Regions from separate parts of the Homo sapiens genome. Here region 1 is linked to region 2. Evidence: fine-mapped expression QTL. A gene starts in region 2. The other region holds a variant in brackets. All regions are shown on one strand. Distances are from middle to middle. Region 1 has its middle 120 kb from the start of SV2C. Region 2 holds the start of SV2C (synaptic vesicle glycoprotein 2C).

The links. PIP is the estimated chance that this variant, and not a neighbour inherited with it, causes the effect.
Region 1: its variant is the best candidate, but not a certain one, in a credible set for the expression of SV2C in tibial nerve (GTEx, PIP 0.54).

Annotation. Positions count from the first base shown.
Region 1 is chr5:75,956,703-75,961,095 of GRCh38, reverse strand. It overlaps a transcript of SV2C not described here. Among named protein-coding and RNA genes, the nearest start is that of SV2C, 120 kb to the left of the region's middle. The variant A/G (reference allele first, on the strand shown) is at 2,355.
Region 2 is chr5:76,081,445-76,085,837 of GRCh38, reverse strand. It overlaps SV2C (synaptic vesicle glycoprotein 2C), which reads right to left and starts at 2,455. Exons shown (of 13, transcript NM_014979.4): 1 at 2,326-2,455. SV2C-AS1 (SV2C antisense RNA 1) reads left to right here and starts at 2,421. Exons shown (of 2, transcript NR_183290.1): 1 at 2,421-2,919; 2 at 3,442-4,393. RefSeq lists an enhancer at 3,091-3,644.

The sequences.
Region 1 (4,393 bases), 120 kb after region 2:
GATCTGATCACTTAATGTATAATTTTAAAATATTTAGATACGTGGCATATGGGCTTCCATTTGGATTCTTGCTTTGGCTCACAAATACTAGGGGTGGGCCTTCCAAGAGACATAACACAGAGTTCCTAGGAATCAGATAAATTCACTTGAACAGCCCACTAAATTTGGCTATGAAAGAAGTATGTGCAAAGTGGTATTAGAGCACAAGGAAGTATTATATCCTATTCACCTTTGTATATCTAATACAAACAGTCTGTAGATATTTGGGGAATTAATAAATAAATGAATGCAGGCAGATATGAGATACTTATAAATACAATCAATAACAAAGCAACAAACATAATCATGTGTCCTTTAATGACAGGGACACTTTCTGAGACATGCTTTGTTAGGTGATTTTTGTCACTGTGTGAACATCATAGAATATACTTACACAAACCTAGACGCTATAGCTTGGTTTTTAATTTTTATAGCTTAGATTTTTATTCCTTTAGATCTATACAAAGTAAAAGACCTAGGCTATATGGGATAGCCTATTGCTTTTTGGCCACAAATCTGTACATTAGGTTACTGTATATTGAATACTGTAGGCAATTTGCAGCACAATGGCAACTATTTGTGTATCTAAACATAGAAAAAGTAATGCATTGTGCTACAATCTTATAACAGCTATGACATCACTAGGTGATAGGAATTTTTCAGCTCCATTATAATCTTATGAGACCACCACTGTATAAGTGATCCATCATTGATAGAAACATCATTATGTGGTGCATGACTGTATTAGAAACAGATTGTAAAAAGCCATAAAAGAGCAGAGCAACAGACAGTGTCAGGCACTTGTGTTAACACAGTTATTACATTAATAGAGTTGCAAAAAAAATCAGTTAATAGGGTTATAACAAAGAAAACCATAGTTATTACAGAAAATACTCTGAGTTTCTAGGATTTTTTCATTAAAAGTTCCATTGACCTTCAAGGTCATATTAAAATAGCATCAGGAAAAATTAGAATTATGAAAAGGAATGCTAGCTAAAATATTCTGTAATCCTATGATGCCACTCTTAAGAAAGTTTTATATCTTAAGGCTGAATATCATTTTTCACTATAGTCTTTTCAGCAAATTTACTCTGCAATAAAAATGTGAAGTAGAAACATTACTACAAATTTTGTCTAAGGAAGCAGTAATGGTGCTCTAGGTCTTTAAAAGAATATTGATTTTTAGTATACTTTCTCATTTCTTTGTGAATAGGACTGGTCTTATCTTTCCTTTTACCTCTACAGGAAAGAGAAACATTTGCAAAATCAGGTATTTCTACCTTTGGACTGACAGAAGATAAATGTGGAATGAATATGTGAGCAATGGACCCCTCAAAATAACAATGAAGTGATGTTGCCTGAATTGTACTTTATGTCATCTCTGTGGATTTAATAATTGATATTTCCCCCAATTATCATAGAAGCTAGATTAGATTCCTTGAGCAGAAGTATAACTTGCTGATGTGTTTGCATATATGTGTGCACACATGTGCATGTGTTTTGGGGATAAACCTCAACCCTGGCTACATTTTAAATTCACTTGAGAAGCCTTCAATAAATATCAATGCCATGTCCACTACTCCAAAGATTAAAGAGAGACAAGAACTGCAGCATTCAGTATAGAGGAATTATCAGTTCTAACTACTTAACACCCACATGAGATGTTAAACAGGATGAGCTTTGAGGCCATTCTGATCTTAACTGAAATGTTCTTAGAAGAAACACTGAATAAACGACAGAATCTCCAAAGAAGATGTTTTATGCAGGCAGCATGCAAAGAGAGCAGATCTTCTCCTAGGACAGTCTGCCCCGCTAAACTCCAGAAAATTAGAAAAGAGGTCCTTAAATGCTTGTTCTCAGGGTACAAGTTGTTCAACTCTGGACTGTCACAGGTCAGAAACCCTATCGTTTTTATCCTTGCATCATCAGCAGCTACCACGGTGCAAAGAACACTTGCTTAATAAAAAATGAAAAATATATGCATAAATGAACAAAATCTGATGTCAAATGATGTTAATAAGGGACTTTTTCTGTCACAGTTTTAGCATGAGGTCTTAAAATATTTGAGGGGGCATGGGTATAAATCACTCACATTTGCTGAAGTGAACTACTAGACCACCTACGCAGATGTACAAAGAAAGTGTTCTAGAACTCTTATCCCAATGAATACTTCATGACCATCAAAGGGTTGAGGTTGAAAAGGTCAAGGAGAGGGTTTCCTTGGAGATAAATGCTGGTATGCTATGAATCCGCCTCCACATCCCACCCCCATTCCCACTACAAGAGAGGGAGAGGGCTTCCCTCATTTCAAGCAT[A/G]ATGATAGAGTCTCAAAAAGAAACGGAGAAAATGACGTGTGTCCTGAGCCAAGGAGACCATTAGAAATCTATATTTGAGAAACTTCCAAAGCCAGAAGTAGTGACTAGAAGCTGTTCAGCCTTCAGGATGCAGCCAAAGGGCCAAGTTGGAAATGCTCTACATTCCCAAAGTCAGGGCGAAGGATGCAAGAATGTTTTCTGTGGTACAATTGGTGCTGCCTTAAGATAATCTGTTATTGTTAGAAGCAATGTCGCTACAACAGAAGGAATCAGGAAAAATACCAGTGGACCCAGAAGTTGAGGAGGGGAGAGTGGCTAGTTTGTAGACAGATAGGTTCCCCCACATTTAGGGAACTTCATATGAGAAATTACTAGTGATGAGGGTTTCATCCAGAAACACCCTCACAGACAGAACCGAAAATAATGTTTAACCAAATATCTGGGCACCCCATGGCCCAGTCAAGTTGAACAGAAAATTAATCATCACAATAAGCATCTCTGGTCACATAGTCAGTTGATGTCCCATGGTCATGCACTTAGTTTCTGTTAGAGTTCAGTAGTATGCCAGGAGCTTATTTTGGAATGATAACTAATTCTCTGATGCAGATGGCATGACTTTGCTCAAAAACTCTATTGAGGCTTTCCAGAGATTCTGCACTGTGTCACATCAAGGTTACCTGTAGCACCACGGGCTATGCTCAAAAGGCATTTTGAACCTATTTTAGAGTATCCTTCTGTTGGGGGCACCCACTGAAAACTGGTAGCCTTCCAAGTTATCTGACAAATAGGATGGAACAGTATTCCCAAGGGAGGTATGTCCTGTATCCAAAGTCCAAAGATGCCTAGCAAGAACTATGAAAGATACAATGACTTGTCTATCTAGGAAGTGCAAGGTACAGTGATTTGCCTTTTACTTAAGAGGAGATGGCTGGGCATGCCCCATTTTGTCAGAGGCTTAGAAACTTCATCAATATGGCAGACTTTTAAAATATTTGTAGGATGTATTTCCTATGGTGTGTCACACATGTGTCTTACCAAGGAAAGCAGTGTACTTGCCATATGCAACTTCTTAGATTTAATTAACATGATGTCAATGATATCAGCCTGATGTTATGTGGAATGTCAAGCTGATCAAAGAAAGTTTGGATTTACTTTGTGACAGAGCAGAAAAGTTAGTATAGCCCTGGGGCAAGAGTCTGAATACATAGTGCTACTGCTATCCATTCAAGGGGATCCTTCCTCCCATTGTAGATTGGAGATAAGACAGTCACCAGATTAATAGCTGCATGTCAAAAGGTTGTGCCAATCTCTTCTAGTAAAGATACTGGCTTCCAGCACAGCAATTGCCATTGAAGCAATTGGTAAGGTTTATAGCAGCTCATAGTTATTGGCTATAATCTATCTTTTTATTGCAAGGACTACACTGATGAATTAAACAAAGATACACTGGGAACCAACATTTCTGTATCCCTTATGTCTTAGTAGATGTTACTAATCTCTACCATTCTACTCAGAATGTGGTCTTACTCCTGATTTACTATCTTATCTAGGGTTGAGGAAAATTTTAGGAGCTTCTAGGCTTTTCCCATCATCATTGCTCTTCCTCAGTAAGTGAATAAATCAATATAAAGCTTCTGCCAGCTGCTAAGTATATCTTTCTTGATTATGTACTCAGGGAATGAGGAAATGACGGAGTGTGTTCATGAATCAGTTGCAACTATGTGACATGGACTTGGGCCTGGACTTAATCTATCACCTTGCCTTTGTAGACTGTAATAGGGAGGAGGAGAGTAGATGGCTGAGAAGTTACAAGGGAAGGTATGTGCAAATCTGTAGGAGGATATGTATTAACTTGAGAGACAGCTACCTTATGTGAAACTCTGCATGTTTTATAGTCATTGAGTAGCTGCTATCTCTACCAGTGGGAACTGGGCTAGTTCTGAAAGCCCAGAGGTTTCCCAGAGGAGAATTTGGGGCTTCAGTGTTCTCAAGGACATCCACATGAATATCAACATTTCTGTTGTTAGAAAATCAAGGAT
Region 2 (4,393 bases):
TGTGTGTGTGTAGGGGCTTTGTTTGCTAATATTTTCCATTCATGGAAAATTTGTATTTCCAAAGCCAAAGCTCTCTGAGATTATCTCTTTTGTCTTCAAAACAACCCTGTAAGGTACATAAGAGCTAGTATAAGCTATTTTTCACAATTCTCAGAGGTGGAAGATGAACCCAAGAGGGTGAGTAACCTGCCCAAGGTGACATAACACAATATTTGGGGAAATGGTGACTAGCATCTGTGTCTCTGGGTTCCTTGATAATTGCTTTTCTTCCTCCCTCCCTTCCTTTCTTTCTTTTTTCCCAACCCCGTCCCCTTTCATTCATTTTGCCTACATACTGCAGATTTGGGCTCCTTCAGTAAAGCCAGTAGAAAAACTTTGTCACTGGGTTTCCAGAAAGTGGTCTTTAAAAAAAAGAATAAAATGGATCGTGGATTTGATTTATTATTTTCCACCAGAGAATGCGTTATCAGTAGTGTTTTTTAACGCGTATTTTTATGCCATGAAAGAGGAATGCGGCATATTGTTTTGTAAGACATTCTTAAACCTCACTTAGAGGCCAGGCCTCCTGCCAAAAATCCTGCAGAATGGTGGCGCAACGGGTTGGCACTACAGAACCTCACGAACCTCAACACCTAGGCGTTCACATGAAAACTTCCCACGAGCACGAGGCCTTTCGGAACTTGCCATGGAAAATGAGTGAACGCCTGAGAGATTAATGCCACATTCTTCAGAATTAAGGATAAGAATTAAACGGAAGCTACCGCGCTAGCAGTCAGCTAAGTATGAAGGGATTAGGTTCAGCGGGAGAGGAGACCATCACGGCATCCCGGTCTCATCTCCTTAAGGCTCTCATGAGCCTTAAAAGACGCCTCATCTCCTCGGTCCCCCGGGGAGCGCCCGGTAGCTGCGGCTCCTTCCCGGCACTGCGGCGCACTGCGGAGCCGCCTGCCCGCCAGCCCAGGCCGTGCGGGGCTTTCCTCGCCGCCCCGCGCCGCCGCAGTCCTCCCGCCCCCCTCTGCCCCGCCGGGTCGCCGCTCTCCGCGCCAGGCGCGCCGCGGGGCATCCATCAACCCAGAGCTTTTGACGCACACACGCGCGCTCCCAGACGGAGACTCCGTCGCCTGCCCCCGCCCGCCACCCCCGCCCGCCCCTCGCGGGTCTGCATTTGCATCACTCGCACACGTAGAAGGTGACGCGAGCGCCCCCAGCTCAGGCCGTCCAGGCGGCACCTCTAGCCCCCGTGGCTCAGCCCCTCCCCCCGCCCCCGCGCGCCGCCTAAGGTCCCCGCACGCCCACAGATCTGCTCCCGATTGTTCATCTGCCGTGGGGTGCTGGCTGCCCCAAGCCAAGTTCATCCCCGTATTCCGCAGTCCCCGTGGGCCCAGCCCGGGGCGCTCCCCGCGACGCTCTGGAGAAAAGTCTTCCCAGTTCTAGAACCCAGGCGGAAGGGGAAAAGCCCACTAAGAGAAAGGGTCAGAGGGTCGGCTGATGGCTTTTGCTGCCCTCATCGCCATCTAAGATTACCTCGGTAGCTTATTTACTGCGATTGGTCCCTCTCCCCTCTGAGCTTCACAGCCTCGGGTCTGCTTCGCCTGGCCTGGCGCACAGCAGGCGCCCAAAAGGTTTTTGCTGAATGAAGGCGTTGTAACGTAGGAAGTGCAGGCGCTGACAAAGAGCCTCAGCCCCGCGGGCTCCCCTGCTCTCCAGCCCTCTCTTGCTCTCTCTTAGACGCCAGACAGGCGCTTCGGGAATGTATGTGGGAGAGTTTGAAAATTCATGGTGTTTCTTTCAGGCTCTCTCAGCACTTACTGCGGCTACCTCTGCTCTCCCGCCACCTGCACGTCTGCAGAGGGATCCCCGCCGAAAAGTTGAGCCTAAGGCAGCTATGAAGGTATAGGTCCAGGTACCCAGCCCGGGGCTCTAGGCTGCTAGATTTGAATCTGCCTATCCCTGCCGGTCAAACCACACAAGCAAAAAAGAGCGTGGCGGTCGCTGCAGATGCGGCCCCTGCATCCCCGCTGCTGCCCACCCACCTCCTCTGGGAATCCCAGATAAAGTGCGACCCAGTCCCCAGACCTACCCTAGCGAACCCTGGGGTCACTGCATCTATTTTACCCCTACTTTCCTGGTCCCTCTCCAACAAAGGCGCCTACAAAGCAGCGGGCACCTGCAGCCGCTTCCCCGGGGGCAGGCGGGGCAAAGTTGCGCTTCCGAAAGGCTGCAAAAACTTCCCCAGGCTGCAGCGCCCGGCCACCAGTCGGGAAGAGAAATCCAGCAGCGGGGGAAAGTCTCCCCGCGGATGCCCGCTTCACCTCCCCCACTCACCGCTCCAGCCGTCGGACACCCTTGCCCTGAGTGGTGTCAGCACTGCAGCCGCCTCAGTGCGGGCGCCGCTCCGGCTCGCTTCCCCGGGCTGCCTCCGTCTGCCACTCTCGCCTGCAGCGCGCGGAGTGGTGACTCCTCTGAGCGTGTCAGCGGCGAGAGGAGGGGCGGGAAAGTGGCTCCCGGCTTGCACGCTGCGGTCCTCCTCCTCTCCTCCGCCTGCCTCCTCCCCCTGGTGCTGCAGTGCCGGGCGGCGGCGTGGCGAGAGTACCAGCGGTGCGCAGGGAGTCACGGCGCGCGGGGGAGGCGGGACCCGCGCGCCACTCGCGGTGCTCCGGCAAGTCGCGGTGCTGAGGCGCTGCTGCGGTGTGGGACTGGGGCAGGGGGCGGGGAAGGAGAGCCACCTCCAAGTGGTAGGTACTTCTGGAGAAGTCAGGGCTCTGAGTTTGTAGCAGGTGAAGGAGAGGGGCGGCAGTCCTTAATTAGTCACCAACTGTGACTGTGCGTTGCGCACTTGGCGGCGCCCCGGGTCAGGTCCAGCGTGAGACGCGAGGGAGTTCTGACTGCTGGACTCTGTTAGCACCGGACAAAAAGAGGGTTTGTATTCTATTTCCGGGCCTGGGACTGACTTGTTCACTTCGACTTGGCTTCCAGGGAGCAACCAGGCAGAGCTAGGTTGCCTACTTCCCCCAGCCCCCACCCCGACGCTGGAAGACAAGTCCAGAGGAAACTTGGGCACAGCAAGAGCAAACAGAAGAAAACTTCGCTGGGTTAAGTCTACTGTCTCCCCAATGCTACATAGGGCCAGACAGCTGGGCTCACAGGCAGATATTGAAAGTGGCCCCTTAGAGGGGAAACAACCAAATATGAGGGGGGGGGGGTGGAGAGAGAGATAGAGAGAGAGAGAGGAGGAGGAGGAAGAAAGAAAGAAAGAAAGAAAAAGAGAAAGAAAGAAAGGAGGAGGAGGGAGAAAGAGAGAGGAGAGAAGAGAGAGAGAGAGGGAGAGAGAGAGAGAATTTTGCTTGTGTTGTTAGAAACAAACATTTCTCCCCTTGGCGTGCAGGAGAGAGAATTTTGCTTGTGTTGTCAGAAACAAACATTTCTCCCCTTGGCGTGCAGGAGACCCCAACTCGAGCTTCACTGTTCCAAAGCGGTGGGCCAGGCGGCTGGAGAGAAACTCGCTCCCGTGAGGCCACACCCAGGCCTGGCGCACCCACCCCGCGGCAGCAGTGGAGGGCGTCGCCCTCCCGGGCCTTCCGACGCAGACCCTGCCATCCGGATGCTGCGGGAAGTAGGGCATCCTCACGTCCCTGACTCCTCCGGCTCCGCGCGCTCACGGAACCCAAGTGGAGTGGGAAGCGGTCACACAGGCGTGTGCCGTCCCCGAAATCGTTGCTCCTGTGGTGGTGACCCAAAGCGAGACAAAGCGCCGCGCCAATACGGGCTGCAGTGATTGGAACTCAAACACACACATCTCTCCGCGAATGTGTTCCATCCGTGTAAATATGCCTGGGTGATTGAATGGATGGCTGAATGAACGCTGTGTGGATAGAAATATAAATGTTACATGTATAATACAGGCGCCGGGGAAGGAGAGCTGTCAGGCACCCCCAGGCTGGAGCCTCCTGCCCAGAGGAGCCGGTGGAGACAGGCGGTTCGCCCAGGGCGGTGTTGTTAGCTTGGGCTTTCCAGTTCGATTTGTGCCACTATGCAGGATACTGTGAAGAGAAGAAAATGGAGACAACTCTTGGCCTCTCATTTTCCCTCCTCTCTGGTTCAGACACTCTGGCACTAAAAGTTATGATTCTCATGTGCTGTTGAACCTACACTTCCTTGCTGGTCTGTCTTGTTCCGGTGAGAGGCTTTGCAGTCTGTGACCATGGTGCTATGAGATGGTCAGGCAATATGAAAATTAGTGAACGTGCTCATTTTCATTTCGTGGATTCTTCTTAGTAAAATAATTATTTAAATAGTTAAATAATTTAAATAGTTAAATAATTTAAATAATTATTTAGGCTAAAATTAATGTGCTGCTACTATGACAAGGAAGTGCCTATGAATCCAGCATTGG